2 separate regions of the Homo sapiens genome follow, and region 1 is linked to region 2. The links come from fine-mapping of genetic effects on gene expression. A gene starts in region 2. The other region holds a variant in brackets. All regions are shown on one strand. Distances are between the middles of the regions. Region 1 overlaps CDK5RAP2 (CDK5 regulatory subunit associated protein 2). Region 2 holds the start of CDK5RAP2 (CDK5 regulatory subunit associated protein 2).

What was found. PIP is the estimated chance that this variant, and not a neighbour inherited with it, causes the effect.
Region 1: its variant is fine-mapped to the expression of CDK5RAP2 in whole blood (INTERVAL, PIP above 0.99).

Annotation. Positions count from the first base shown.
Region 1 is chr9:120,376,058-120,392,558 of GRCh38, reverse strand. It overlaps CDK5RAP2 (CDK5 regulatory subunit associated protein 2), which reads left to right. Exons shown (of 38, transcript NM_018249.6): 37 at 2,772-2,818; 38 at 3,267-3,684. The coding sequence ends at 3,323. Among named protein-coding and RNA genes, the nearest start is that of MIR147A, 140 kb to the right of the region's middle. RefSeq lists an enhancer at 1,954-2,454 and a silencer at 11,842-12,050. The variant A/G (reference allele first, on the strand shown) is at 5,313.
Region 2 is chr9:120,576,514-120,592,234 of GRCh38, reverse strand. CDK5RAP2 (CDK5 regulatory subunit associated protein 2) reads left to right here and starts at 12,068. Exons shown (of 38, transcript NM_018249.6): 1 at 12,068-12,315. The coding sequence starts at 12,257. RefSeq lists enhancers at 11,851-11,980, 11,834-12,396.

The DNA of each region.
Region 1 (16,501 bases), 200 kb after region 2:
TCTCCTCCTCAGCAGCCTTTGGCCCTGAACAGTCACAGGGCAGGTAGCTAACCCTATTGACAGGTGAGAAAATTGCAGAAGTAGGTTTCGATGGGTTGAGTACTGTGGTCGGTCAAAAGGACAGAACTAGAACCCAGATCCCCTGTGTCCTAGGTCAGAGAACATGGAATTATTGATTGAGCACAGTTCAGATCTCCATTCTCCTATGTGACCTGCATTAGACTAGAACCCTAAGCTTTCGATTCCTCATCTCTAACTGGAGACGTGAGTTCCAAAGGACTCAGACTAACTAGTTGGTCCCGGGTTCAATAGCAACTTTATAAAAAGCACCCCAGTTTTCTCATCTGTAAAATAAGGATGATAACGCTACCTAAACTGTATTGTACTTAGCACAGTCTCGGGGGCAGAGGAGATGCTCAACCAGTCCCTCCTCTTTCTTTCCATTAGGCCAGACCAAATCCTATGCATGGAGGTGGCAAATCATTCATAGTAAGAAGAGCCGCAAATGTCTCATAGCACTTCCCCTCCTGAGCTGGTATTGTCCATCTCCATATCTCCTAGGCCTGGCACAGAGCAGGCTCCGCCAGAGCAGGGTGAGGGGCTTGCTCCAGGCAGCATAGCTGGTGGCTGACCCGGGCCTGCAACTCCTCCTTTGCCAGGCTCTGCAGCTCATCCCAAGGAGTCAGGTCCTTGGAAATTCTCCAAGCCCTGCGGACTTCACAGACCTGCTCTGGGTCTAAAGGGACTAGGAGAAAGTTGGCATAGCACCTCCTCTTCCTCCGTCCCCTCATGGTGATGGGGAAGAGCAAAGGCCAGGGCTGATTGCTACCTGGTCAAACTGACACCATACCTTCTCAGAGTCTACAGGGGAAAGTAAGGAAAAGGCATCCCAGTGGGACCCTAAGAGTCCTGATGCCCTGGGGCCACTCACTGGCCATGTGACCTGGAACCAGCTGCCTCAGGTCCTCATTTGCAAAGCGAGGACAGTAGTTCTGCCCCATAGGGTGGGGGAGTATTCAGTGAGGCCACCGTTGGAAACCACCTGTCACCAGGTCAACACTGCTCAGCTCAGGTCGGTACCTTCTTCCCAGCACTCTGCTGAGGTGGGAAGAACCATGGACTGAGTTGGGCAGGCCCACATGTGAGTCCCAGCTCTGTGCTGGGGCCAGTCTAGATTTGGGACGAGTCCTTTGTCGCTGTGTTCCTCGGTCTTCTCCTTGCAGTGGGGATTTCTGTGCTTTGGAACGTGGCAGTGCTGTTGAGGTGTAGGGGTCCCCTCAAAGCTTGAGCCAAGTGATCCTTAGTTCTTCTGCCATGAGCTTTGTTCTCTAGGGACATGGAGTGCTCTTTCACAATCATCTTCAACCTCCACAGCTGTGATACTTAATCTTTTCTGGGTCTCAGGCCCCTTGGTGAATCTGGAGAAAGCTGTGGTCTCTCTGTGGAAAAATGCGGACGTCCAGATACATACCCCCATTTGCACACAGTGTCGGAGGGTTTAGGACTGACCCCCCAAACATATCCAGGGCCCCATGTCAGGAACTTTGCCCTGCAGCAGGAGGTCAGGTTGGGGTAGAGGGGCAGTGGCCACCTCTGAAAGTCGTTTTGCTTGGCTAAAAACAAAGTCCACACCGTCTGTCCCGTCCCCAGTGTCACAGATTGCAAATAAACTCCATTACCTCCAGATGGAAATTTTCGTGAGGCAAGAAATCAATATTTTCTCAAGGCCACCACACGACAGACACCTATTCTGAAGAAGCCACTGGGGAGTCAGGCTATGTGTGTTGGGCGTTGAGTCTGTTACAGCCTCTGGCACTGTTGGCTAAAGGCGCGGCTCCAGAAGCCTTTGGTATTTCCAACGTGGGGAGTAAGCTGATCTTACTCTCACCAAGCCCTGTTGAGAACAGATTCCCTATCAGGCTCAGAACTCTGATCAAGAGGGGCATTCTTGCCACTGCTGGAGTTTGTGTTGGACAAGAAAAAGCCTGAAGGAAGACCCACCTTTACAGTTGCTCCTGAAAGCCAGGGCTCGCCTGCCCCTCCTGGGAATTCTCATGCACGGGGGATCTTTCTAGTACAGTGCTCCGGGCGTCAGTGTCAGCAGGGACCTCTGAAACCATCCCACCCAACCAGCTCTTGTCCAGGCAGAATGTGACTTGCCCAGAGGAATCAGGCTGGGCTATTCCACCAGCTAAAGGGCAGGCAAAGGAGAAGCAGCATGCCCACGGTTTTTTCTTCCAGGCCATTTGGAGCTGGCTCTAAGAGCTGCTGGGTAAAAACCTGGCTTCGTAGAACTTGGACCCTCATATGTGGGTCTGCCTGATCGGGGCACAGTCCCTTCCCACAGCTGCTTCCCAGAGGGCCTAGGAAACTAAAGAGTGCTGGGCAGGCCCAGGCCTCTACCCTCCCTGCGCCATTGCCCTCCCTGGCCCACAGAAGTGAGCCTGAGGGATACCTGGACAGCCAGGTGGCCGTGCACAGCTGTAGGGTGTTCTCTGAACCGGCATAGCATGCTGTAGCCTCTGCATCACTGTCAGGTGGTGGCTTAGCGGGGCCTCAAAGAGGTGTTGTTGATGCGTTATTTGGCCCTGGGGTTTGTGATGGGTCAGGTGGGCCCTTTGTACCTCCCTCTGGTCTGGATGCTTCAGACCTCGTGTTGTCTACATGTCCGAGCCCTTTGGGGTGGGGTTCATCCTCCCTGCACTTGGCTTTCACACAGCTCTCCTGGATATCCATGGCCCTAATCATTGCATTCTTTGCTCTCTCCTCAGTGGTCGTAACCCACAAAATCCTTCGGAAGGCCAGAGGAAACCTGGAGGTATGCCCTTTGAGTCTTTTCACTGCAGGCCAGTGGAAGGTCAGGAGGAGTGCAGGGCCAGAAAGGACCTCTTGAAAAATGAAGGTGCAGGTGGAACCAGGGGACATGTCCTCCTCAGAGAGTTGTTTCTGCCAGCAGTGCATGAAAAGTTGTGTTTTATCATGCCCTGTCGCCAGTAGGGGTTCTAAGTTTTAAATTTGTATGCTATTTTTACCAGTAAGAAATACAGCAAACAATGCTTGACACATAGTAGGCATTTGATGAATATTTCTTGAATGAATGAATACAGTATGATCTCATCGTTGTTTATTAGGTAAATATTTACTGACCAAACTATGTTTTTGAAAGCACTTTGAGAATAACAGTCTCGCTTTCACCTCTGTCGGGGTCTTACTTCAGAAACCTCCTTTGGACTTAAAATTCTCCTTTTTTTTCTTCCTTTTCCTAGCTTAGGCCTGGGGGAGCCCATCCAGGAACATGCAGTCCCAGCAGACCAGGCTCCTGAGAAGAACTTTCAGCCAATAAAGCTTGTGCTTCCCCCACCGAGCTCACGCTGTCTCTTTGTTCCAAGTGTGGTTCCTATTTATTGAGGAAGAAAGAGCTGTCTGGCCAAAGGAAATCTATTTTTTCCCTTCATGTTTTCTCTCTGAAAGTTGGCTTGAGAGTTGTTGTCAGAAAGGTGCAGGTGCTCCACAAACGGGTGGTAAAAAGGCCTCGAGCTCTTGGATGTTGTATTTCAGATCAGGGGCAGGCACCGGAGTTGAGGCTGTGCGCCTTGGTGGGCTTCACGTCTTCCCCTGGATTTGCTTAGTACTCAGCCAGTGCCACAGTTTGAAGATTCTCATTAAATGATTCATTTCATTTCACCTTGACGATTCTGTTGTTTTGTGTGGCGCCTCAAAGCCCAGGTCCCAAAATCCCAAGTGGGACAGGCCAGGGTTCCACGAGTCGCATGGCTCACTGCTGAGCTCGTTCAAGTGTCCAGAGAAGAGCACCTCCGTGCAGCGTGGCCATGGGCACTGGTGTGTGCTCAGCATCTCACAGTCTGCTGGACAGCAGCCCTTGCAGTGGTGCCATTCCCGATTTAGCAAAGAGCAGAGTGAGGCCCAGAGCTGGAATGTGGCATTTGCATTGTTCCCGTGATGACAGGGGTGTGTCATCAGCCATCCACATCGCTGCCTCTGACCAAGATGCCCCCAGCCAAAACACTTTAGCGGCTTCCCACTACCCTCTGATCCAAGCCCGAGCCCCTAACAAGGTTTACAAGCCTTGCTGGCACCTCCAGCTCCTTGCCCATCTCGCCTCCTCCCGCTCCACTCTGTGTTCCAGGCAAACGGAACAGTGTTCTCCCCAGTCTAACCCAGGCTGCGCCCTCTTGGACATGCTCCTCCCACCCTTTCTTTTTCTAGTTAGCTTTGAATGGTCCTTTAGAAATATTTTTTCTGCCCTTGGGGAAGCCTCTCCTGACCCGATACTAGGTGAAATGCCCCACCTCTGCTCCCGCAGCCCCCACACCACTGTGCAAATCCTCTGAGCCCCTGGAGAGCAGAGGCTTGTGTTGACCATGGAATTGCCAGCACCTGACCTGGCGCCCAGCTCCCCAGACACGATGGTGAGGGGAGGAGACGGGATTGCACTTGCTGGAAGCGTAGGGTGCAGCAGCCCCGGCTGGGAGTCCGGGGAGTGGCCTCATGCCACTTTGCCTGTCTCCCCATCCATTAAGAGAGGGGCGGAGGAAGTGGGCAGTACAGACCCTTTCTGCTTCGGTTCCTGCCATCTGTGCTCTTCCTGAGAAATATTTGCACAGGTGTACCTCGGTAGAATACGTACCAGTGTGTGAAAACTCAGATTGAGCCATAATGTCACTGGAGTGCCTTTCGCAAGCAGTCACAACAGTTGACTTCCTAAATGGAAGCTGGGTCGGTGTGGCGCTGTGGAGCAGGAGGCCTGGTTCCCGTCCCGAGTCTTGTGCTTCTGTAAATGAGAGTTACTCTTGTCCAGTACTGTTACAGAGTTCGGAGCCTCAGATTTTGAAAGCAGCTGAACAACAAGGCCCTTTCCACAAATCGGTGACTCTTCTTCACTGTCTCAGTGGCTGGTCTTAAGCAAGTTTTAAAGTACTGTTTTAAGTTCTATGGCTGTGTTGTGCCAAACCCCTATTAACCTCAGTAGGGGAGGCACCAGGTTCAAGGGGCCTGAGAAGAGACCCACAGAGCCAGCAAACAGGATGTGGGCTTTATTAGGGGCTTACATACAGGGGAACAGTCCAGAGGCGGCAGGCTGGACAGGAGAACTGCTTTTCGTACAGAAACAGATGGTTCAGTGGCAGCGGCTGAACAACACAGCCCACGGCCCAGGTGGGGCAGGAAAACCATCACCACTTATAAACAGCATGCAGTTTATATAGCATTTTCACTTAACCTTCCCCCAAGGACCTCTACCTGGGAACCTTTTTTTAACCCAAAACTCAGGGCCTCAGTTCCCTGTACAGCCC[A/G]TGTCCCATGAGACGGGCTTGGGGGCTCAGATACTCCTCACAAACAAGGAACAAATCTCCGGGTTGGCCACTCCTAGATTCTCTAGCTCAGAACAACATTAAGACGCGTCTGCCATACAGGGTCGTTCTAAGGTTGTGCTTAAGCTATTGCTGTCAGGGTGTTTACCCTCCAGGCAGGTGTGCGCAAATGTAAGCATGTGTGGTTGCGGGGGCAGTGGGGAGGAGGGGAGGAGGTTGTACAGTGTAGTAGATGCAGCTCAGGCAAGGCCTGGAAGTCAGACCTGGGCTCAGATGTCCCCACAGGGGAAGAGTCCTACCTTGCCTGGCACATGGTCAGTGCACAGCCCATGGGAGCTGAACTTGGTCATTGGCAAGGGCTTGAGGTGCAGGGATTGGAGGAGAGATCCACATTGGATTCTGGTACATCCCAGGCCCGTCTGGTTGGTGAACCCAGGCACGCCTGGAGCAGGAGCTGCAGAGGAGGGGCTCCAGGAGCCCAGCTGGCCATTTGCTTCAGGTCACCCACAGCTTTTCAGGAACACAATAATCTAAAACGAAGTGCATTTTTATCCGCCAGTTTAGAGTCACGTAAAATACTTTCAACCTTGGGCTAGTGAAGGCCCTCCCTCTTCTGGGAGGTGGAGGAGCAGCCTGGTTTGTTTGGGCTGGATTAATGCCAAGAACAAACTGCAAATAAGACAATTTGGACCTTGGAAAAAGCTCCATTGTCCCTGGTGAGTTAATTTTACCAGCAGCTGAATTCGGGAGGCTTTGAAGCAGTAATCAGAAAATGCGTCAATTTCCCTTCAGTGAAATTAATCACCACGTGTGCTGGAGGAGCTGCACCTGAGAGAAACAGCTGCAGGGACTAAATATATAGTGAGAGGATTGGGAGACAGGCCCAGGGCCCCCTGCTTGCCCTACCTTGGAAATGGTGCTTTTATCTCACTTCCGAGGCCCACATCCCAACGTCCCTATCGGGGTCCTGGAGAGTAAAATCCTCGCGCCTCAGGCCGGCGCTCACCTGGGATGGCAGTAGCCACACTGTGCATCTCAGTAATCTGCACCACCTCACCCATTTTACAAATGAGAAGACTGAGGGATGTAGCCAGAATTTGAACCTGAGTCTGTTAAAACCTGATGTCCCTTGGATTATCAGTATTCCCCCAAAATGCCATCTCTTCGAGAAACTGCAGCATTTCCCTGTTACAAATCGAAGTATTCTCAGTCTACCCTTTCCAACAAAATGTCTCTGGATGACCAGAGCAGGAGCCCAGAGACCCACAATTGAATTCCTCAACACAGCAGCCCCGAGAACTGCTTGTAAGTGGGTGGTGGAAGGGAGAAAGAGTGATCTTGTTAATAAGTTCTCGGCATTGTGGAAACCGAGAAACCTGCCTGGGGGATCCGGCCCTGCCAAATTGCCTCTTCAATCTTGGCCATATTTTAAGGCTAACTCAAAAATGCAATTATCAAAATCACTCATCCCATCTCCTGAGAAGCCCCGGACTCTGCCTCAGGGGCTAGACCTGTTTACCTCTTGCCACAGATGGGTGCCAGGTAGGATGGGGGTGAGCAGATCCAGAGACCCGGCTCCCCAGGTGGGGCCTTCTAGTGGAACCAAGCCTCGGTTTCCTTATTCACAAAAATTATGAGATGTGGAAAGATATACAGTGGCTAACTGTGAGGCCCAGACATGGCCAAATTGCAGGGGTTCATCTATTCACCTCAGTGAAGGGTCTGCCTTTGGCCAGCAGCACATGCTAGAGACATCCTTGCACCTCCTCCCTCACCCTCCATATCCCATCCATGATCAGGGCCACTCTCTCCACTTGTATCTCCCAAGGCCATCGCTTCATTCATCTCCAGTGCCACCTCAGTCCAAGTGACCATTAACTCTCACCTGGACAGCTTACTGTCCAGTTGGCCTCCCACATCCACCCACCCCTCCAAATGTCTGCCAGACCACAGCTAGAGTGATTCTTTAAAAGGGAAAGCAAATCATACTATCCCCCTTGTTTAAAATATGGGATGCCTCTCACCACACCTAGTGTGGTCAGCAAGCCCTCAGTTCCCTGAGCCCCCCTGTCTGCCTTCTTGGCTCCCTGTGCTCTAGTCTCTTAGGGCTTTTGTCTCTGTCCACAGGACCTTTGCACATGCTGCAGCCTGCCTAGCATGCTCTCACCGTGGCTTCTCCTGCTAGTCAGAGATGGCTTCCCGATCAGGAGCCCCTATTCTGCATGATCAGAGCGTGATGATCCCCCCTCACTGGCACTTGGCCGCTGTGTGACTTTGGGTTCTTCCTCTCCCTGTCATTGACCTGAAGCTCCGTGAGAACACAGACCTCATGTGATTTGCTCACACCAGCCCCGCTGCCTGGGACAGGGCCAGCAAATATATTCACTCAGCAAACATTGCCAAAGCTTCGCCAGCCTCCTTCTGGAGGAACTCAGGTTGGTCGGGAGAACAGACAAGTAATATAGTGAATAGGGAACATTTGCTTAGACCTGGGGTCCTGGGAGCCTGGCTGTCTTTGGAACATCATCATAGGCAGTCATTGTGACAGCCCTGGGTGGGAGGGACTGCTTTTTTCATATGAAGGACTGGGGCACAGAGTGACCCGCCCAAGATCACACAGCTTCAGATGGAGGCCCGTAGGCTACAGAGCCCAGCTCCCTGCCGCTGCGTGTGAGTGCAGTTTAGTTTGGCGAGTGCCCAGGCAGCTGGTCAGGCTGGAGTGCAGCCCACACTGGCAGCGTCTGCTTCCACTTGCGGCCCACTCAGGCAGTTCCTGCCAGTGGTCCAAAGTCCAGCCCTGCTCCTGGTGAGGCCCAGAGGGGCCTCATCCTCGCTGGGAGGCAGGCAGTTGGAGTTGCTTCTGACTCAACCTTTTAGACCTCTTTGTCCTCAGGGTTGCCCAAGTCCCCTCTTTTCCCATTGACCCCATTCCCTGGGAAGCCGCCGGCCTTGCCTGACCCGAGAGGGCAGCACTGGGCAGGGCTCACCCCTCCAGCTGGATCACAATGGGACTAAGTGCATGGTGGCTACCAAGCGCCCTCCCACACGTGCTTCTCTCAAATGCGAAAGCACCTCCTTGTTAACAGGCATTCACGGGAGAGCTTAATTACATGGTTTCAGGTCTAAAACGACCCTCTGTTTGTATTAATGCCACTTTCTCGTTCCAAACAGAACAGCATGTGGTCCCAGCTCGTGTGTGACACTGGCCGACGGTGTGGGCAGACACAGGGAAATAAGAGAACAAGGTCGCCCTGGCCTCGCCCTCTTCTTTAGCCAAAACAATGGTGGGGTCGGGGGCCACAGACAGAGAGTGACCAGGCCCAGGGCTCCTTTGTGGTGGAAGCCAGTGGCTGGGAGCCCACCTGGAGAGTGTGGAGTGGGTGTGGGAGGGAGAGACAGGTGGGCGAGGTGTGGACACTCAACATAGGAAAGTATTTGGAGACAGTCACAGTTACACACTCAACATCTGCTGGCACCTACCCAAGCCCAGAGCTCCCAGAGCCCCGCGGGCCCCCGAGGCACTCCCAGTCAAGCATGGGAGACAGGCCAGCACACAGGTGATCCGTGGTCGTGATAAATGGTCACAAGGGGCCGTGGGCACCCAGAAAATGAGCTCCTACTCGGCCTTGGAGGTGAGCAGGGAAGGTGTCCTCGGGTGACCCTGGATGAACAGTAAAGGCCAACTGGGAATTGTGGGGTGGAGAAGGGGTGGGGGTGGGGCTCCTAGGCAGAGGAAACAGCAGGGACTAGGGTCTGTGAGTGGTGCATTGGTCTGGCTAGAGCTTAGAATTCAGTCAGCGGCATAGGCAGTGCCTCCAGTGGCAGCTTGAGGCGGGTGGGTGTCATCGGGAGCAGCAGGGGAGGCACGGGTAAGTTTTTGTCTGGGAAGGGGTTGGGGGATGTTGCCGAGTGTCCAGGGTGCAGGCTGGAGTGTCCTCACCTGGTCAGGGGCCGGCAACAGAGAGGCAGGGTGGATTTGGGACACTTATGAGGACCTGAGGACCCGTGTGTGTGTGTGTGTGTGTGTGTGTGTGTGTGTGTGTGTGTGTGTGTGTGTGTGTGCGCGCCCTGGCGGCGGGGGTGAGGAGGAGAGGGTCCATGCTGCAGGTTTCTGGCCCAGCCAGTGGTGTGGGCACCTCCACAGAGAAAGAGCAGTACGGAAAGTATGGAACAGTATGGAATGCCAACTGCATCTTTCAAGGTGGGCAGAATCTACAGGGTTGTGGTAGGGGAGGAAACAGCCTGTGCAAAGGCATGGAGGCCACTGAGGGACCCATGGTAGTGGAGTGTGGCCGGGGCATGAAACACGAGGTTGGACACAAGGTACTGGAGATTTGGGCCTTTTTTGTGTGTGTGGCATTGGGAAAACAATGGTGATTATTCCAGCGATGAAGGAGAAAGCCCTGGGAGGAGGCAGAAAGAAAACTCTAGACGAGAGGCCAGTCAGGGGAGGGGGTGAGGGACTCGGTCATTGCCCAGGCAGTGAGCCCCATGGCTGTGAGGACACAGAAGCCCACTCTCTTCTCGCTGCTGTTGCAGGAAGGCTGATGGCAAGAAAGGAACCCGGCCTCCTACTCAGATGAGGCCAGGGGGTGGCCTCCCCGGGGACTACCTGGGACTCCTGTTTTACCTGCAGTCTCCTGGCCCCACCTCTAGTGAGCCAGTGACCCAGCCGCAGGCAGCTCCTCTGTCTGGAGACAGGACAGTGGTCCAAGCAACTGCCTAGCAAGGGGCTGTGTCACAGAAACAGAGGTGATTTGAACTCTCCCAGCCTCAGTTTCCAGCCTCACCTTTAAGGTGGGGGTAACGACTTTTTTCTACCCAAGCCTCCTCCTCCCTGGAGAGTTCCCTGTCTTTGAGTTCAGAGCTCCTCCAGGCTCTGCAACAGGCCATCCTGTCCTCCCCCCAGCCCAGCGGATTCTGCTTCCTTCTTCTTTCCACTCTGTCGTATCCTCTCCTCTCCTCTCCTCTCCATGTCCACCTCCTACTTAAACACCGCTTGCCTGCAGCCAGCCTGGGCGCCTCCGGCCTGGGTGAAGGAAGCAGTCTTCTCACGGGTCTCCCTGTCTCCTGCGCATGCACCCACCCCTCACTGTCTCTGCCCACATCCAGGATGATCTTGTCAATTGCAAGACAATCATGTCACTTCTCTGCTTGCAAACCCTCCCAAGACCAAGTCCCCACTCCTCCACTGCATCCAAGCCTTCCCATCTGGCCTTGGCCTTCATCTCCCATAGATCGGGGCTTGTCCTTGATGATCTCCCCGGCCCCCATCCATGAAGTTGCTATTCTTGCCACACTTCTTGCAGGCCCCTGAGACCATCTCCTCGGCATCCTGCAGCTCTGGGCTTTGCACCTGCGTCTACTGTTCTGAAATGTCCGTCACCCACATCCTGGGCCTGACTCACTCCCACTCATCTTTACCTCAGGCATCACCTCTGGGCCTTCATCCTTTATGCCTCAATTCGTCTCCCTATAACAGGGGTATGATCCCTTGTAACTGGAGATGGTCTTAGGGTCTTAATTGACTACAAGCAACTAAGTTAACTGAGACCAAAGAAGAAGTCTAAAATGCTAACGATGCCTTGGCTGCATTAATAGAGATACAGAGTCCAAACAAGAGAGGTGAATTATTTGGCTCTTGTCAGACCTCCATGACTTGTCCAACTGTTCTGTGGGCCTTGTGATCATTTCCTGTGCCTTGCTTTAGGAAGGATATTGACAAAGTGGATCATATCATTGATACTTTCACCTCAGTTCACTGAATTTGCTTGCCATTCGTCAAACATGTATATGCCAGGCACTACAGGTGTATAGTCACATTTAATGCCATAAAGCATTATGATCTCCTTTGTACAGATGAAGAGGAAGTCACAATAAGTCAGGTATTGTAATGATAAAATAGCGCCTGTGGTAGGCAGAACAACAGCCCCTAAAGATGTCCATACTCTAATCCCGGAACCTGTGAATATGTTACTTTATATGACAAAAGGGAATTTACAGAGGTGATTAAAGTTAAAGACCTTGAGATGGGAGATCTTTCTGGATTATCCAGGTAGGCCCACTCTAATTCCATGGTTCCTTAAGGGAGAAGAACCTTTCCCAGCTGTGGCCAGAGAGAGATGTGACACCAGGGAAAGGATCAGAGAGTGGCTGAAGACAGAGGGAGGGGCCAAGAGTCAAGGAACATAAGTGACTTCGGGAAGATGGAAAATGCAGGAAACAGAATCTCCCCTAAAGGCCCCAGAAAAACAGCATAGTCCTGCCTACTCCTTGATTTTAACCCAGTGAGACCCATGTCAGACTTCTGCCTATGGAACTGTAAGATGATAATAAATGTGTGTTGTTTTAAGCCACAAGGTTTGTGCTGATTTGTTATGACAGCGGTAGCAAATGAATCTCGTGCCTCAGTCAGTACAAGTTTGATCATATAAATTTAGAGATGATATGTATATGCTTGTAGTGTGTAATTTCCTAATGACAGGGGCCACTGAATAGATAACCTGTGAGGTAGTGAGCTCCCCATCCCTGGAGATATGTTACAGAGGCTGTCTGCTAGCTGTTGATGATGTTGTAGAAGGGATTTCTTCTCAGTGGGCAGGTGCTTGGACCAAGGACTTCCTCCAGAGAGTCTTCAGAGATTAGAGTGAGAAGCCACGTGGCCCAGGATTGGAGGAGGTTTTGCTTCTCCCTGCCGGCTGGGAGGCCTGTCACCACCCATAGGGTCTCCCTTTAGGCACGTTATTATATATGGTTCCAGGACTCCATTACTTCAGAATGCTTGTATGTAATGTATTGAAGGAATTATTGAAATGTGTAATTACAGTGTGCATTGTATTCTATTATATTCATTTGATGGAACTGTGCTCCATAATATCTATTCTCATATAAAAGACTCCACCATTAGAGTGTTATATTGTGTGATGATAGTTGTCCTTCAGCAGACACTGTCTCCTGTCTTCACCCAGTTCCCTTTCTTCTTCCCAACACTCCTGCTACCATGAAACTGGAATACCCCAACTTCCCAGGTGAGAAGGCACTTTGGGGTGATTGGGTCCACCCCACATTAGACAGATGGAGAAGGTGAAGCCCTGAGGCCAGAGCTGGTAACGCCAGCATCTCCCAAGTCCCAGCCAGTGTCCAGCCTGTGGTTCCCAAACACCTGTGAATTGGAACCGTTTGTTCAAAAAGAAATCTTGTGTGGAACCCCAATATACAAAGCAGATGGGTCAGCTCTAGGGCAAGCCAAGATGGGCCCCCCAGGGTCCTGAGTGCTTGGGAGCACACTAAGCCTCACCCCCACTCTGAGGTCCCTCTACCAAACATTAGGGCTTCAAGGGACATCCCGTGAAAACCAGTGCCTCAACCCCTTCCTGGTCCAGATGGGAAAAATGAGTCCCTGAGTGTGGCGAGTGCTTGCCCGAGATCACACCCCGAGCTGGAGGCAGAGCTGGGATCAGCACTCGTGTCTTCTCAGCCTGTGTCTCTCCATCTCAGCTGCATCGAGAACCCTGGCTGTTCTCAGCTCTGGCTGCGTTGGAATTACCAGGGACTCTTCAGCATGAGGATCAGAATCCTGGTCCCACAGACTGCGGTGTGATGAGTCTGTGGCAAGGTGCAGGGCTTCTTGTTTTTGAAAAGAGCCCCTGAGGCTCCTGCTGCACAGAGCAAGTTAAGAATATCTTCCTCCTAAACATTGCTTTGGTTTGTGCTCCTCACTGCATCTCCCCGCTCTGCCATAAGTCAGGCCCCATCACCTGCAGTTGTCATCTTTCCACAAATATTTACAGAGTAGGCACTGTCCTGGGCCCTTGGGATAAAACAAAGGCCCCTGCTTAGATTTTAGCAGTGGACGCCTGTAATAAGCCCATGGTCTCCTCTGTTAGAGGGGAAATGTGTTATGGCAAAAGGGGCTGGAGTGCGGGGTAGGGGAGGGTGGTAGAGGGGAGCTGGTGTTAGGATCTAACTGGGCGGGGACAGGACAGGGGATCCTAGTGGAAAGGGGATGTGAGCAGAGAAAAGTCATCCCAATACCTCCATTGCCTGGATCTGTGCAGTAGCATATTGAGAACAGAAAATGAGAAAATACTGCTCTCCCAGGTTGCCTGCCTTGTCATTGGGTTCTGAAGCCACCCTGCTTGGGCTGGGTTATCACAGTTCCTCTGCCTTCTGCCTGCAGCCTTGAAGTGAACGGCGGTCAGATCTAGGCCTGGGCTGGGCTGGAGACAGTCTCCTCCTATCTCCACCCCAGAGCCATGGAGCCTCAGCTTCATGAGTCTTTTTCTCCAAAGTCCTGCTGGCTGTGACATTAACCCATGTAAGCAAATGCCTCTGGTTCATTGGAGGAGTCAGACATGGAAGCTCGGATTGCAAAGCTCTACACACAGTCTCAGTTCTTACAACATCACTGTGTGGCTGGGTTTAATTCTCCCATTTTTCAGAAGAATAAATAAAGCTCAGTGAGGTTAATCCACTTGCTTAGAGTCATGTACCCAGTAAATCGAGGAGCTGATAGTGCAGCCAGATCTGTTTGACTGTTTCTACTACGTCGTGTCACCTCACTAAATGTTTGCTGAACTGCTGAGTGGAGGTGTGGAGTATTAGGCTGTCTGAGTTAAAATCCTCAGAGTGGCAATTTAGAGCGTGTTATTCAAATCCAGCCGACTCCTGTTTTACAGTAACCATCATCAAAGGCTGCTGTTAACGGGAGCCCACATCTTCCTTTGTGCATTTGAAAAAAATCCATCTTAAAGCCATCACGCCCGTGCGGTGACCACGGAGGAGTCAGTAGGAATTAAATCTGAAGCCAGAAACAGGAAGAAGCCAGAGGAAGGTCATCTTTTGAAATGACAAAGAGGTGCTGTTTTCTCAGTCGGGTAGGCCCAGCTACTGTAGCACCAACTGGGCCGCGAATTTTAATTCCAATCTCTGCAGCTGCTAATGTGCTTGTCGCTTGGAGAATAGACACTAATTGACAAGCAACTAAATAAATAACGTGTAACATGAAAGCAAACACAAGCTTTAAAAGAGAAAAAAAAATAGCAAAAAGGATGAAATTAAAAATGCGGGGGGTTGAACGGTGTTTTCCACACTCCATTAAAGTGACATCAAAAGGCTTTTCAAAATATTTGTTTTATGGTGAAGATAGAGTTAGGAATCATCTGAGCTCCTGTCCCCACGCTGCTGCGCTGGAGATCAGAGGTGGCGCAGTGAGAAGAGGAGAGAAGATTCTTCAAAAGGAGCTGGAGAGACGCAAGCTGCGTGCCTGAGGGATGACGTGTCAGCCTCTTGGTCTTACAAGGGGACAGACCGAGGTCCAGAGAGGCTCAGTGGAGCACCAGAGTCACCCACTGGGTCCCTGGGAGGTTAAGCCTCTGGTATGGATTGAATTGTGTCACCCCAAAAGATATGTTGAAGTCCTAACCCCTAGTACCTCAGAATGTGACCTTGTTTGGAAATGGGGTCGTTGCCGATGTAATTAGTTAAGATGAGGTCATACTGGAGCAGGGTGGACCCTTGGTCCAGTATGGCCGGTGTCCTTGTAAGAAACGGGAGAGAGGGGAGAAGAGCACCATGTGAAGATGCAGACACAGCAAGAAGATGGCCACGTGACCACAAGCCACGAGGCAGGGACAGATTCCACCCCGAGCCTCAGACGGAGCACGGCCCTGCTGACACCTGGGTTTCAGACCTCTGCCCTCCAGAACTGCAAGAGAATAGACTTCCGTTATTCCAAGCTGCTGAGTGTGTGGCGCTTTGTTCCAGCAGCCCTAGGAAACAAATCCAGCCTCTGCCGCCTGTGCTCCTGCTCCCCACTCTGCCCCCAAGGTGGACACAAGTCCCGCATCCTGGCTGGAGGCACTGCTTCTCAGACCTCCCCTGACGTCCTCCCGCCAGTTGTGCTCTGATCATATAGCCATGAAATTTCACTGACATTCCCCCATTTTCATTATTCATGTAGTTCTTGCTACCTAGACTACAAGAATCTTTTCAAATTTCAATTCGATTTGTTCAACAAGAACTTCTTGAGCTTCTTAGCCAAATATGCCTGCCTTTCCCAGGAGCCACCAGCCCTTCTCCCCTCCTTCTCCACTCCCTCCAGACTGGCCGTGGGGCTCCCTTGCTTTTCCCTAAGCACGCCCGACATCCTCTGCTTCAAAGACTGGCCGCTTTCTCTGCTGGAATCCCCTTTCCGCAGACATCCGTGTGGCCTAGCCTCTCACCTCCTTGAAGTCACCGTCTCAATCAGGACTACACTGACCACCCATCCCTATTCATAATCCCAACCTGCCCCTGTGTACCTGGTGCCACTTAGCTGGCTTCGTGCTGTGTGATTTTTGTATGTGTTATGCTTATCCTTGGTCATGTTTTCCCGCCATAGACTATAAACTCCATGAGGGCAGGGACTCCTCTGTGTTGCTCACCTAGAATGGTGTCCGCTGCTCAGTAGATACTTGTTGATGAGTGACACTCTCCCTATGGTAGGCCCAGGGCTGGGCACTGGGGAGGCTGATATGTGGTCCTTAAATAGCTCACAGCATCCTAGGGGACTAGCATGTGCTGACAATTCCAGCTCAGGTGCTACGAGCAGCAATAGGCTGACTGCCATGGCAGACTGAGGAGTGGTGAGTCCAGAGGGGTCTTCCAGAGGAGGTGTTGTCTATAACAAGTAGGCAGGTGGTGGTAGGAGGGGCTGGCCTAGGGGCACAGTATGCAAAAGCGTGGAGGCAAGGAGAATGGTGAGGTCCCATCCCCACGAGACATGACGGGGTGCTGTGGTGAGGCTGTGCGTGAAAGATGGCAGGGTGGGAGATGAGCCCGGATGGGCAGTGGGGCCTGAGCCTGACTGAGGGCTTCGTATACCCATGGCTTCATCCTGGGGTGAGGCAGGGACAAGTCATCTCCAGGTTGCAGAACATCCACTTCTAGCCCCTTCCCCCACCGGGCTTAGTATCAATCCACTGGAGACAGTTCCCGCCACATCAGGCTGAGCTCCTCCTTTCTCCCAGCTCTATGAGCCCAATCATACCACTTGGAACTCTTGGGTGACAAGTGACAGAAACCCCATTCAAAGGAAGTTAGACCTGGAAGGGGTTTAAGTGTCTTGTGTAACCAACTGGGAGGGGCAAGGGTGGGGCAGCCTCAGAAGGGGCTGGAAGCAGGACCTCTCC
Region 2 (15,721 bases):
AAAAACCACCTCCACCACTCAATAAAACCCCACATTCATCCTTCAAGCCCATGTGTGACCCGATTCTTCCAGGATGCTAGGCAAGAGCTCACAATACAGAAAGCTATCACACTGGCCCTCTGCCCTTATGAAAAGGCAGAGGGTCCATTGAGCGGTTTAACACTCAAGCCGTCTACAGATAGGAGGGCTAAAAGGGCACACTGTAACACATGCCCACTTGGGTTCCTGCAACTGCCTGTCTGTGTGTTCCCCCTTCCCTCGGGGGTTTGAGCAGTGGCAGTGACAGGCAAGCCACACTTGCCTTCACACGTCCTGTGAGAGGGATTGGGGAACCCTCCCATTTCAAAAGCAGAGAGATATGGGTTCTAGTGCAGGCCTCACAACTGTAGGATCTGGGGCAACTTAACAGATGGCTCTTCGTCTTGTCGCCATTACCTATAAAAGTAATAACTTTTTAGTTATCACTAAACATGGGGTTTCGCCATGTCGCTCAGGCTGGTCTTGATGCTGACCTCTTAGGGTTGCAGCAAGGTTAAGTGAAAACCTTATGTGGAGCATCGCAGCACATGCAAGGTCTATAATGAATAGTTCGCTTCCTCTCTCCCTATTATTTAAGAGGTCTTTAGGCTGGGTGCGGTGGCTCATGCCTGTAATCCCAGCATTTTGGGAGGCCGAGGCAGGTGGATCACAAGGTCAGGAGTTCAAGACCAGCCTGGCCAAGATGGTGAAACCCTGTCTCTACTGAAAATACAAAAATGAGCCGGGTGTGCTGATAATGCGCCTGTAATCCCAGCTACCCGGGAGGCTGAGGCAGGAGAATCGCTTGAACCCGGGAGGCAGAGGTTGCAGTGAGCCGAGATCGTGCCATTGCACTCCAGCCTGAGTGACAAGAGAGAAACTCCGTCTAAAAAAAAAAAAAGAGGTTTTAAATAAAAACTTTACAAAAAATGCAATGTTTTTCTATCTCTAGTGAGTGGATAATTGGATCAGGTACCAGCTAGTTTGCTTCCTGACTAGAAAACCAATCTACAGCCCAGTATTTGAGTAAGGCTACTCTTGGGTTTTGGGTATACTTAAATGAAATGAGACACCTCCCTAAGTTGAATTGCTGCTGTTTCTGTGTTTTCAGTGAGTGGTCTGTGGCCAGGACGGCATCCACAGGAGGCTGAAAGAAGCAAAGTGACATGTTGTTGGCATTCTATGGTTCCACAGGGATCCATGAAGAAACGCCATATTTGCCTATGGGAAATGGGTGGGAAACTGGTATTGTGAAGCGAGGAGAGCACAGGCCTGGAAGTCTGCCCATTTTGGGTCTATTCTTGCTCTGTTATGCACTTGTAGAGTGAACTTGGGCAGGCCGCTGAATCCATCTGGATCTCAGTTTTTCCACTGGTAAATCCAAGAAGTTTCGTTAAATGTTCTCTGTGAGGACCTTTTTAATTCTTGTATTCTATTCAGTGGGAAGATAAGGGTGTTCAGAGTAAGATAATTAATTCTGGTTAAGATTTATTAATTCATTCTTTCCTCAATATTTATTAAACACCTATTATCTGCCAGGCACTATAAGAGACCAGAGGGTATAGAGTTAAAAGTTCTTGCTCTCCAGAGTAGCCAGACACAAGAGTATGCACTGTATGATTCCAGTCCTAAGAAACTGTTGAAAGACAAATCTTGGCTGGGCATGGTGGCTCATGCTCGTAATCCTAGTACTTTGGGAGGCTGAGACTGGAGAGTAGCTTGAGTCCAGGAGTTTGAGACCAGCCTGGGTGACATGGCGAAATACTATCCGTACAAAAAATACTAAAATTGGCTGGGTGTGGTGGCATGTGCCTGTAGTACCAGCCACTCGGGAGGCTGAGGCGGGAAGATCGCTGGAGCCCAGGAGGTCGAGGCTGCAGTGAGCTGTGATTGCACCACTGCACTCTAGCCTGGGCGACAGAGGGAGACCCCGTCTCAAAACAAAAACAAAAAAACAAAAAACAAAGGAAAGAAAGAAAAAACAATTTTTTTTGTTGTTTTGATACAGCATCTCACTCTGTTGCCCAGGCTGGATGGAGTGCAGTGGCGTGATCTCAGCTCACTGCAACCTCTGCCTCCCAGGTTCAAAGGATCCTCCTGCCTCAGCTTCCCCAGTAGCTAGGACTACAGGTATGTGCCATTATGCCCAGCTGATTTTTGTATTTTTAGTAGAGATGGGGTTTCGCCATGTCACCCGGGCTGGTCTTGAATTCCTGACCTCACGTGATCTACCCGCCTTGGCCTCCGAAAGTGCTGGGATTACAGGCATGAGCCATCGCGGCCACCTCATGCCCCACTAATTTTTAATTTTTTCTTTGTGGAGATGAGGACTCCCTATATTGAGTAGGCTGGTCTCGAACTCCTGGGCTTCAGCAATCCTCCTGCTTTGGCCTCCCAAAGTTTTGGTATTATAGGTCAGAGCCACCATGACCAGCCCAAAAAGACAAATCTTTAATGAGGAAAAATAGAACAGTGAGGCCGGGTGTGGTGGCTCATGCCTGTAATCCAAGCACTTTGGGAGGCTGAGGTAGGTGGATCACCTGAGGTCAGGAGTTTGAGACGAGCTTGGCCAACGTGGTGAAACCCTGTCTCTACTAAAAAATACAAAAATCAGCTGGGCGTGGTGGTGCACACTTGTAATTTCAGCTACTCAGGAAGCTGAGGCAGAATTATTGAACCCGGAAGGCGGAGGTTGCAGTGAGTCCAGATCTCACCATTGCGCTCCACCTTGTGTGACAAGAACGAAACTCTGTCTCAAAAAAAAAAAAAAAAAAAAAAAAAAAAAAAAAAAAAAAAAAAAAGCCGGGCACAGTGGCTCACGCCTGTAATCCCAGCACTTTGGGAGGCCGAGGCGGGCAGATCACGAGGTCAGGAGATCGAGACCATCCTGTCTAAAACAGTGAAACCCCATCTCTACTAAAAAATACAAAATATTAGCCGGGTGTGGTGGCAGCGCCTGTAGTCCCAGCTACTTGGGAGGCTGAGGCAGGAGAATGGCGTGAACCCAGGAGGCGGAGCTTGCAGTGAGGGGAGATCGCGCCACTGCACTCCAGCCTGGGCGATAGAGTGAGACTCCGTCTCAAAAAATAAAAAATAAAAGAACAGTGATTTCCTGAGGGGGAAGGGAGATTGACTTGGACTGTAACACCAAGGAACCTTGTGGGGTGATGGAAATGTTTCACATCTATGCTAATACAGTAACCACTAGCCCCATGTGGCTATTTAAATTTTAATTAAGATAAACATTTTAAAAATTCAATTCCTCAGTCACATAGCTACATTTCCAGGGTTCAATAGCCACAAGTGGCTAGTGGCTATTGTATTGGACAGTGCAGATTTAGAATACTGTATTTCCATCATCCAAGAAAGTTCTGTTGGAGAGTCGTGTTCTACCTCTCTCTCTCTCTTTTTTTTTTTTTTTTGAGACTGGATCTTGCTCTGTTGCCCAGGCTGGAGTGCAGTGGTGTGATCTCAGCTCACTGCAACCTCCACCTCCTGGGTTCAAGAAGTGATTCTCCTATCTCAGCCTCTGGAGTAGCTGGGATTACAGGCACACAACACCATGCCCAGCTAATTTTTGTATTTTTAGTAGAGATGGGGTAACACCACTTTGGCCAGGCTGGTCTTGAACTTCTGGCCTCAAGTGATCTGCCCGCCTCAGCCTCCCAAAGTGCTAGGGTTATAGGCATGAGCCACCGCGTCCAGTCTGCTATTCTGTATCTCTTGATTCTGATGATGGCTACATGAGTATGTAAGTTTGCCAAAACTCACCAGAATGTATACTTGAAGTGGGTACACCTATTTTGTGTAAATTCTATCTCAATAAAGTTGATTTAAAATATTAACATTGGCCAGGTGTGGTGGCTCATGCCTGTAATTCCAGCACTTTGGGAGGCCGAGGTGGGCAGAACACCTGGGTTGGGAGTTCAGGACCAGTCTGGCCACTACAGTGAAACGCTGTTTCTACTAAAAATACAAAAATTAGCTGGGCATGGTGGCGCACACCTGTAGTCCCAGCTACTTGGGAGACTGAAGCAGGAGAATGGCTTGAACCTGGGAGGCGGAGGTTGCAGTGAGCCGAGATTGTGCCACTGCACTCCAGCCTGGGCTGCAAGAGTGAAATTCTGTCTCAAAAAATAAAATGAAATGAAAATAAAATATTGACATTGCCTCTCCTGGCCTCAAGGAGTTCACACTGTGGCAGCCAAGTTAACAATTACAGAGCTAAATGTCACAATGATGATAAGCTCAGGGTATGCTGGGAGTCCAGAGGTGGGACATCTACCCAAACTGGGTCCCAAAACTTTCTCTTAAACTGTTGTTCAGAGGACCCTAGGACTCACAGAGAAGGGGAAGGAAGCATATTTTAGACTCTAAGAGTCACTGGCATGTATAGTTCTTTTGTGTGAATTAGAAAAAAGGCATCCCTGCTTTGGGATAAACTCACAGCTTGTCCAGCACAGCACGGACTCAATTTCAGCCTCCACTCCTCCTTTGGGTGGATGTGCTTGTGTAGGGCACAGCCTGTGCAGTGTACTTGGTGGCATGTCACACACACAGGAGGACACATGCAAGGAAAAGGGGACTGTCATTTATCCCTTTAAGGAAGGAGGCACTGCAGCTGCCACAAGTGTTGTGTTCATCCTTCTCTAGTTCCTGCTCTGTGCTCTCAATGTGAATTCACTGCATTTAAGGGAGATGCAAAGTTTACCGTCCCCTCCTGCAAGTCACAAGACATTAAGTACTTCTTTTAATCTGCAAAATGTCCAGACAGTTGATTAATTCAATTACCCTTCTCTGCTTAGAGCTATTGCTGCTTTACATATTCAATGTGCAGCTGGAGAGGGTGCTTGAAAGCACTCTCTGGCATCCTAGGATAATTTTTCCAGCAGCTTTTAGATCTCTGTTAGCCAGACCCTGGATTTAAGTGGGTGGGGATGTGGCCATCGTACTGAGGATGATCAATTTAGGTAGGAGATCTTGCCGTGGGACATATCTCTGGCTCCTGCAAGTTTCAAAAAGCTCAGGAACCACCTTTTGTGAATCAGGAAATGGAGGTCCAAGCTCCTCTCTGTCACTAGCTTGCTGTGTGACTTTGGGAAAATCGGTTCATGTCTCTGAGTCTCAATTTCCTTATCAGTAGAAGAATGATAACAAACTTGTCTTAGAGCTGTTGTGAGGTAGAATCAAGGGATGAAGAATGTGACATGGGCTTTTTAAATAGTTGCATCAAGTAGGGATTTTATTTGATCTCTGTTGGCCTTCAAACATGAGGAGCTAGTGCACATAATAGTATGTACAGGTTTTTATCCTGCTTTTGCAGGGCATAGGTCTTACTTGTAAAACAGCCTTCCCCAACTGCTCAATCAGAATGACTCAATCCCTTCTGTGATCCTAGAATCTCACTGTTCTTTTTCTTTTTCTTTTCTTTTTTTTTTTTTTTTTGAGATGGAGTCCTGCTCTGTCACGAGGCTGGAGTGCAGTGGCACGATCTCTGCTCACTGCAACCTCCACCTCCCAGGTTCAAGCGATTCCCCTACCTCAGCCTCCTGAGTAGCTGGGACTACAGGTGCGTGTCACCACACCCGGCTAATTTTTTTTGTATTTTAGTAGAGACGGGGTTTCTCCACGTTGGCCAGGATGGTCTCGATCTCCTGACCTTGTGATCCACCTGCCTCGGCCTCCCAAAGTGCTGGGATTACAGGCGTGAGCCACCGTGCCCAGCCCTGTTATCTTTCTTATACCAACAAAGTATTTAAAATGTTTTGCTTTGTTTCATAATTATGTATGTGCATTTTCACCAGCTTCTTGAGGACAGGTATTCAGTGAAAGGCACTACGGCCTAGTGGTTAAGAACATGGGCTTTTGGATGAATTCTGGGTTCAAATCCTGTCTTCACAACTGAGCTACTTGGATGGTGTCGGGGCAAAACTTTCCTTTAACCTGTCTGGTTCAGTACCTGAGGGTTCTGTGTATTAAATGGACAAAAGACAGATTAACAGGAGAAAAGGCATATTAATTTTTATTAATAGTTATGTGCACAAGAGTTCATAGAAAAGAAGTGAAACTCAAATAAGTGGTTAGGCTCAAGGGCTTTTATCCCATTATAGCAAAAGAAGGGAGTGTTGAGCTTCAAGGCTGATAAATCATGGGGAAGTGATTAGGGAATATATGGGGGAAACTAATGGTAGACAGGGAGGAGGCACATGTTCACAAAGGGGAATTTATGTCCTGCTTCAGGGTAGAAAAGGAGAAGGCAGAAAATTCTTTCTGCATCTGTTGATTCTCAATTGTCTTCAGCTCAAAATAATCCTTATGCAAAAGGGGCATATGTTGGGATGGCATATTTTGATCCCCTTCAATGGCCAGGCAACTCTTTCTTCTCTTTGTACTTCAGTTTTGTCAACCATAAAGTTGGAGCATAATCAGTTCTTGTTTCATAAGGTTATTGTGAGGATTGAATGCAAAGTATATAACACAGTACCTGGCACATAGAAAGAGCTTAATATATGGTAGCTAATTTTAGTTATTCATGGAACATCACAGCTGAAGGGGCCTCAATGTTGTAGTGTAATGCACTCAGCATACAGATAAGAAAATAGGCCCAGAGAGTTGAACTGGGAGATTGGTATTAACCTTATATTATGTTGATGTGTGTTACCATCCCTAGTCCAATAATCTATATTCTATTCCTTTGATATTTGGTATTTCTCATTCCACTTTCCATCTTGAGAAAAAGTCAGGACTTGGAGTTAATTTGACAAACTGGCATTGAGCATCTACTATGTGCACAGCCTGGGGCTACATGTTGGGCCCAGAAGGCATCACTGACTTGATCACCCTGCTCTTCAGAGAAGGCAGTGGGTACTAATTGAGAACTGGTCCTAATAAGGACTGCTGGTGTTGAGGGTTGGTTGGTAAGAGGTCTTGGGAGCAAGGGGGCAGATGTGTCTGCCAGAAATACTGCCAACTGTGGGACCAGACAGGCATGGGTTTGAATCTCAGCACGGCCATGGTTTAGAAGGGCAGCTTGGGCCAGGCGCAGTGGCTCATGCCTGTAATCCCAGCACTTTGGGAGGCCGAGGTGGGCAGATCACGAGGTCAAGAGATTGAGACCATCCTGGCCAACATGGTGAAACCCTGTCTCTACTAAAATTACAAAAATTAGCTGGGTGTGGTTGTGTGCGCCTGTAGTCCCAGCTACTTGGGAGGCTGAGGCAGGAGAATTGCTTGAACCCGGGAGGCGGAGGTTGCAGTGCCACTGGACCCCAGCCTGGGTGACAGAGTGAGACTGTGTCTCAAAAACAAAAACAAAAACAAAAACAAAGCGTGTCATTGCCATGAAAGACAGAACTGTCAGAGACTGGAGGAGAGTAAGGAGATGTAACAAGTAAATGCAGTGTGGAATATTGGATTGGATCCTGGACCAGCAAAAGGGAATTAATGGGAAAAGATTAAATTTAAATAAGATCTGTAATAAGTCATATTGTATCAATGTAATTTCTTATTTTTGACAATTGTGCTATGGTTGTGGAAGATGTTAATATTTTAGAAATTCTTTGTACTATTTTTGCAACTTTTTTCTAAGTTTGAAATTATTTCTAAATAAAAAACTAAGAAAGAAGGAAAGAAAAAAAAGTGTGACCTTTGGGAAATCTCTTCCCCTCTCTGAGCCTTTAGTTTCTTCTTCTGTAGAGTAGGGCGATCAACCCAATTCACTTCACAGCATCATGAGGATAAAACGGAAGAGTGCAAAGTAGTAGCATTGCGTATATATTGATCCTATAAAAAGTTATTTTTGCTGTTAGTAATGGCAGTGCAAATGTCTTGATCTGTTAAAGCTTCAGGAGGGTTCTACCCAAATGAAAAACATCTGACTGCAAGCTACTTCCTCCCAGCCATTTGATATGACCTTGTCTGAGGAAATAATAATGCCAGCTTTGTGGTTGGGTGGCTGTTGTCAAGGAGATAGCCCCAGATAGCCCAAACAGCTGGTGGTAGTGACGTCACCTCTAGGTTTGGCAGAAAGATCATGGTGAGACAGAGACAGGACAAAGGCCTCTGTCTCTGAACATGAAACCACTACAGTAGCAGGAAAACCAACTTCCAAATAGCCTTTCCTTTGTGCAATTGATTCTATTTTCAGTTTCTAGGTTCACTAAAGGGTTTAGCACGCAACCCAGGGACATGGTCATGCTGAACAAGGCAATGGACTAATCATAATGAGAGATCCTAGGCTGGGCGTGATGGCTCATGTCTATAACCCCAGTACTTTCTGACGCTGAGGTGGGAGGATCATTTGAGCCCAAGAGTTCGAGACCAGCCTGGGCAACATACCAAGACCCCATCTCTACTAAAAATAAACAAATTAGTCCGGCATGGTGGCACCTGCTTGTGGTCCCAGCTACTCGGGAGGCTGAGGTGGGAGGATCACCTGAGCCTGGAAGGTGGAGGCTGCAGTGAGCTATGATCACTCTTATTGTACTCCAGCCTGGTTGACAAAGCAAGACCCTGTGTCCAAAAAAAAAATTAAATAAGTTAAAAAAACAACCCAACTCCTCACAGGTTCTTTCATCTTCAATAATGTCTAAGGTATTCAATTAGATGAGGCAACCATGTGAACTCAGCATTGTCCTCCCCATTTTACACATGAAAATCGAAGTGTAGCAAGGGGAAGGAACCCCAGGTCACAGGATAAATGGGAGGAGTTTCCAGAGTCAGAATCCAGGTGTCCAGACTTCCAGTTCTGTAAACTGCCCACACTAAGATTCACCTCTTAGCCACTTTGAAGCAGTTTCCCAAGGAGTAGAGTCTGGTGAACACAACCCTTAAATACTGTCGTCTGGATGTAGACCTTGCCTCTTAGTACTAAATTCTAAAGCAAAAGAGAAACCCAAATGGGGATGACAGGTTGCCTGAAACAATCAAGGTGTTGGAATTCAAAGGGCCCTGGTCTCAATTCCAGCTCTGGCACTTACCAGCTGTAGGACCTTCAGTAAGTAGTTTTTACCTTTTGCAGCCTCAGTCTTCTCAATTGTAAGTCAGATAGTAGCGCCTCCTGCAGAAGGTTGTTGGGAGGGTTAAATGAGGTGGTGCATGTAATATGCCTGGAACAAGTGACGTATAAGACATGCTCAAAATGTATAAGTTCTCTTCCTTGTTTATATTCTCAAGAGTTTTCATTGGCTGGAGATGCAAAGTTAGTTCTTTCATGTGGGAAGTGTTAGCCTCCCTCCCCAGGAGAGAGTTGGTTGTATGTTAGTAGCTTTGAAATAAACACAGAAGCCAGGCACAGTGGCTCACACCTGTAATCCCAGCACTTTGGGAGGCCGAGGTGGGTGGATCACCTGAGGTCAGGAGTTCGAGGCCAGCCTGGCCAACATGGTGAAACCCCGTCTCTACTAAAAATACGAAAATTAGCTGGGCGTGGTGGCAGGTGCCTGTAATCCCAGCTACTTGGGAGGCTGAGGTGGGAGAATCGCTTGAATCCAGGAGGTTGCAGTGAGCTGAGATCGCGTCACTGTATTCCAGCCTGGGCAACAGAGCAAGACTCCATCTTAAAAAAAAAAAAAAAAAGAAATGTAGAAATCACCTCCAGAGCTGTAACATCCTGAGAGACCCTGAGAGGTTCAGCCCTCTCATTTAACAGATGTAGAAGCTGAGGTCCACAGAGAAGTGATTGGCCAGGCCGGGTGGGGTGGCTCATGCCTGTAATCCCAGCACTTTGGGAGGCTGAGGTGGGTGGATCACCTGAGGTCAGGAGTTCGAGACCAACCTGACCAAGATGGACAAACCCTGCCTCTACTAAAAATACAAAACTAGCCGGACGTGGCAGTGCATGCCTATAATTCCAGCCACTTGGGAGGCTGAGGCAGGAGAATCGCTTGAACCCGGGAGGCAGAGGTTGTGGTGAACCGAGATCGTGCCATTGCACTCCAGCCTGGGCAACAAGAGCAAAACTCCATCTCAAAAAAAAAAAAAAAGGTGATCTGCCAAAGATCACAGAGTTGGTGGCAGAGCCAGGGTGGGAATCCTGACACCCCAACTTCCCTGCTTTTGGACACACCTATCTCATGGGTTGAACTTACTGGCAAGGAGTATTGGTTCCTGGGCTTCAAGGACTGCCCCGTTCCTGAGGCAGTGCACCAGGTGTGCTAAGCTTTCCCTCTTTTTCATGCTTTTATCATTGCTAATTGTGGGTGTGGTTGAAGATCTAGAGAAAGAAGGGGGACAGGCAAATAATCGCGGGCTTTGGAAGCCTAACTAAAGCTGAGAGAGAGACAGAGAGAGAGAGAGAAAGAGAGAGAATGAATATGAATCTGGGATACACAGAATTACTATTGACAGAGGTCCTAAAAGTATCTCTGATTATTCTCACAAAAACCTTGCAGGATAGGTATTGGCCTTATTTCCAGACTGATTGATTGAATCACTCATTCATTTAACATACATTTTCAAATAGCTGCTGAGTGGCAGACATAGTGCTAGGTGTTGAGGATATAGCAGTGAACAATTCAGAATATAGTCCCTGCCCCATGCAGCTTCCAGTCTAGTGCAAGGAAAGACATTTAAAAAATGATTTTACACACACACACACACACACAAATTGCAAAATATGGTAAGTGCCACAAAGGAATAATTTGCATTGCTAGGAATACAAGAAGTGGCTTGATTTAGATTAAATGACTAGGGAAGGCTTCTTTTGAAAAGTATCAATAATTGGTTAATTACTTAACTGAAGAATGAGGGCCTGGTGCAGTGGCTCAGGCCTATAACCCCAGCACTTTGGGAGGCCAAGGTGGGAGGATTGCTTGAGGCCAGGAGTTCAAGACCAGCCTGGGCAACATAGTGAGACCCTGTCTCTATTTAAAAAAAAAAAAAAAAGAATGAGGAAACAGGGTGAAAGGGGAATTGTTCAAGATTACTGGGAAAGTCACTATCTATCCACTCACCAACCATTTCAAGTTATTTTCATCGGGCTCTCTCACAAGGGCCTGCAGAGGAAGGAGCAACACTGAGTTGAGGAGGGGAAGGTTAATTTCATTGCTTAAGCTCTGCCAAGATTATCTAAGTGTTTGGTGATTGCTATGTGCTTTAAGAAAGGCAGCCAAGGGGCCGGTGCTGTGGCTCACGCCTGTAATCCCAGCAGTTTGGAAGGCCGGGGTGGGCAGATCACGAGGTCAGGAGATTGAGACCATCCTGGCCAACATGGTGAAACCCCGTCTCTACTAAACATACAAAAATTACCCGGGTGTGGTGGCGCAAGGCCGAGGCAGAAGAATCGCTTAAACCCAGAAGGTGAAGGTTGCAGTGAGCTGAGATCGGGCCACTGCACTCCAGCCTGGCGACAGAGGCACCATTTCAAAAAAAAAAAAAAAGAAAGGCAGCCAGGGTTATGCAGAGAGCCCTCATCTAGTTGGCAGGAGCTGCAGACCCCCACTCCAGTTGAAAGACATTGTCAATACTTAATTACTTTGGGAGAGTCCTTTCCTCTTGCTGGCCCTCAGTTTTCTGACCACAGGTGCCTTTGAGTCCTAATGGTAATAAAAGACCAATAGGTGAGAGACTGGAGTGGGAGTGCTGTTGACCACTGGCTCATGGGAATGAGTTATTTGCTTCAAACTAAGTCTGCAAATTACTGTTTGCCTTGAGATTCCGCACGTAGTATTTTTCCAAAGCAAGGCAGCACTCAGTTATCTGAGTTTCAACTTAAGGTCAAATCCCAAAGTTTTGGGGTCATTATTCTAGAAAAGCAAACACGAGGTTAGGAACTTTGAGGATTCCTGAGTGGCTGTATTCATTTCCATCTCCCGCGTAAATTAACGGACTAGGGCCCGCTTTGGCCCTCAACAAAGATGGCACCCGCCCTCGCCTCTCCCTAAGTGCCCTCACAAAAAATGGCAGCCGGCCTTTTTTTGTCTCTTATTTTTGCTTGGCTTAAGCACGGATGCTTTGCCCTTAGTTAAGATGGCACCTATCCCCGCTTCCCTGCCCGTCCTCTGGCGCCAGCCGGTCGGCTTCACTGCGTGCGCCTCCGTGACCCCGCCTCGTTTCCGTAGGAAGAAGCGCCGGGAAAGATGGCGGCGTCTGTGGTTTGAATTCCAGCGGCGCCGCCAGAGTCTGAACAAGAGCTGGGGTGGAGGGGGCGGGGACCTGGGGAGCCCGGCGGGTCGCTATCGCGGGGGGTACTAGTGGCGCCGCCGCCACAGACACCAACGCTGTCGCCACCTCTGTAGCCATGATGGACTTGGTGTTGGAAGAGGACGTCACCGTCCCTGGGACGCTCAGCGGCTGCAGGTGCGGCCGGGGCATTGGTGGTCGTGGTAACCGGGCCGGGGTTCCAGCTGGTGGGATTTCGTTCTAACGCGGCCTTGGGGTTTGCTCTTGAGGGTGTCTGGCCAGGGGCAGTGTGTGGGGTGGGTTCCTTCGGAGAGGGTCTCTGGGGGGCCCACCACCTGACACTCTGGAGGGCTGGGAGCCGCGACCTGCACCACAATTGCCAGTAGCATTGCGCCATGTACTTTGTAGAGCGTGTGAAGAACAGGTAAGGAGTTTTCTGAAAGAGTAGGACGAGGGTGGGGCCACTTGGAGTATCCCGTTAGTGGGGATTGGTGGAGAACAGGGACCTTGAGGGCACCTGATGGTTCCTTCTGGTTTGAGAGTTTGTTTTCATTATGGAGAGAGTGTAGCCGGTATGCCCAGACTTTGCTTTTTGGGTCACATAGTGGCCACCCAGGAGGCAATGGAGTGCAATGATTAAGAACCTTGGCTAGAGTTGGACAAAACTGGATTCAAATCCAGCCCTGTAAACTGACTAGCTGTGTGACCTTGGTAAAGTGATTTCACCGGCTTTCCCATCTGTAAAATGGGCTAGTAATATCCACCCAACAGAGTTGGGGTGAGGATTAAAAGAGGTGATGCCTGTCGAGCCATTTGCTTGGCAGGTGTAGTGCCTGCCACATAATCAGTGCTTAAAAAATGATCTTGTGTTGCCATTAGTGTCATTATTACTACTGTCATCAAAGGTGATATGAATCAGGGAATAATGGCCAAGAGTGGCCTCCCATGGACCTGCCCCAAGAGACTGTGGGAGTCCCCATTGCTGGTGGAGCTGGGGTCTGGTAGGAAGGCCTAACAGAGCGCAACTCTGCTCCACGGCTGGCCCCTGTGGTTGTCCTAGACTCCTGGTTGGAGAGTGAGTAGAGGGAAGAGGAGGAGAGCCCTGACGGAGAACCTGCACTGTTTATCCAGCTCTACTATGGACAAGCTGCTGCTTTTAGTCAACAGATCCTAATTGAAAGGGTGACCATGTTATTTATTGTGCTAACTGGGACACTTAAGAGTGAAAAGAGCCAGGTGCGGTGGCTCACCTGTGTAATCCTAGCCCTTGGGGAGGCCGAGGTGGGCCGATTTCTTGAGCTCAGGAGTGTGAGATCAGCCTGGGCAACATGGTGAAATCCTATCTCTACAAAAACTACAAAGATTAGCCAGGCGTGGTGGCATGCACTTGTAGTCCCAGCCGCTCGGGAGGCTGAGGCAGGAGGATTGCATGAGCCCGGAAGGTTGATGCTGCAGTGAGCTGTGTTCATGCCACTGCACTGTAGCCTGGGTGACAAAGTGAGACTCTATCTTTAAAAAAAAAAAAAAGGAAAGTGAAAATAATTAATATTTATGCCCGGGCAGCAGACATAAAGAGGGCCTATCTTGGGTAAACCTGGACAAATGGTTTTTCTGTTTATTGAGAACCTTCATGTATGAGGCACAGACTAAGATGCTTTGCAGTTCCTGTCTAATTGGGTCCTGTGATATTTCATCATGCCCTTTTCTATCTATTTTACATCCACTGCCCCAATATATTGGGAGTATGGCTTCTCTCTTGTATTGTCCTTTGCACCTCTAATAGTTTTTTATACTACAATTTGAAAACTATTTTTTATTTATTTATTTTTTTGAGACGGAGTCTTGCTTTGTGACCAGGCTGGAGTGCAGTGGCGCGATCTCGGCTCACTTCAACCTCCGCCTCCCGGGTTCAAGCAATTCTCCTGCCTGAGCCTCCGGAGTAGCTGGGATTACAGGAGTGCACCACCGTGCGTGGCTAATTTTTGTATTTTAGTAGAGACGGGATTTCACCATGTTGGCCAGGATGGTCTCCATCTCCTGATCTCATGATCTGCTCTCCTTGGCCTCCCAAAGTTCTGGGATTACAGGCGTGAGCCACCGCGCCCGGCGTGAGAACTATTTTTTAAATATAAATCTGCTCTTCACAGTCTGCTGCTTTATACTTTTAATGCTGCTTATTGCTGTTATCATAACTTCCATTATTATTCTCTCAGATAGCCATTCTTATTTCAGTGCTTTTTGGCCAGACACTTGGGTTTTGGGGTCCCAGGCCTAGCTGGGTTTTAATCCCAGTTCTGCTACTTAACAACCCCTTGATCTGGGGCAAGTCACTCATCATCTGTGAGCCTCAGTGTTTATCATCTGTAAAAGGGGTTGGTATAAAGCCTAGGGTTGGCATAAGGATTAAAATGAATCTTAAAAAGTTTAGCTCAGTGTCTGACCCAGAGTAACTACTCAACAGATCAGCAAATATTCTCCTTTCCCTCATCTCCCTGCCTTTGCAGGACGTAGATACTGCATACATTCCATCTTAACCATTTTAAAGCATGGTTCAGTTGTATTAAATATATTTGTATTATTGCTCAACGGTCACCACTATCTATCTTCGTAACTCTCCATCTTGCAAAACAGAAACTGTGTCCCTGTTAAAACAGTAACTCCCTATTCCCCCCTTCTCCCAGCCTCTGACAATCACCATTCTACTTTCTGTCTCTATGATTTTTTTTTTTTTTTTTTGAGACAGGGTCTCGCTTTGTTGCCCAGGCTGGAGTGCAGTGGAGTGATCTTGGCTCACTGCAACCTCCGCCTCCAGAGTTCAAGCAATTCTCATGGTTCAGCCACTTAGTGGCCGGGACTACAGGCATGCCCCACTACGCCTGGCTAATTTTTGTATTTTTGGTAGAGACGGGGTTTCACCAGGTTGACCAGGCTGGTCTTGAACTCCTGGCCTCAAGTGTTGTGCCTGCCTCGGCCTCCCAGAGTGCTGGGATTATAGGTATGTGCCATTGCGCCCAGCCTGTCTCTATGATTTTGACTACTCTAAGTGTCGCGTATAAGTAGAATCATACACTATTTGTCCTTCTGTGACTGGTTTATTTAACTTAGCATTATGTCCTCAAGGTTCATGCGTGTTGTAGTATGTGTCAGAATTTCTTTCCTTTTTAAGGCTTTTGTTTTTAATTTTTTTTAGAGACAGTCTTGCTCTGTTACCCATGCTGGTCTTAAATTCCTGGGCTCAAGTGATCCTCCTGCTTCTGCCTTGCTAAGAGCTGGGATTACAGACACAAGCCACTGTGCCTGCCCTTCACTGATATTTTTATTGTCCTTTTGATTATAGCCATCCTTTGGGTGTGACATGGTAGGTATCTCATTGTGGTCTTTTTTTTTTTGTCGTTGAGACAGAGTCTCACTCCCTTGCCCAGGCTGGAGTGCAGTGGCGCAATTTCGGCTCACCGCAACCTCTGCCTCGTGGGTTCAAGCGGTTCTGGTGCCTCAGCCTCCCAAGTAGCTGGGACTACAGGCACGTGCCACCATGCTCGGCTAATTTTTATATTTTTAGTAGAGACGGGGTTTCACCATGTTG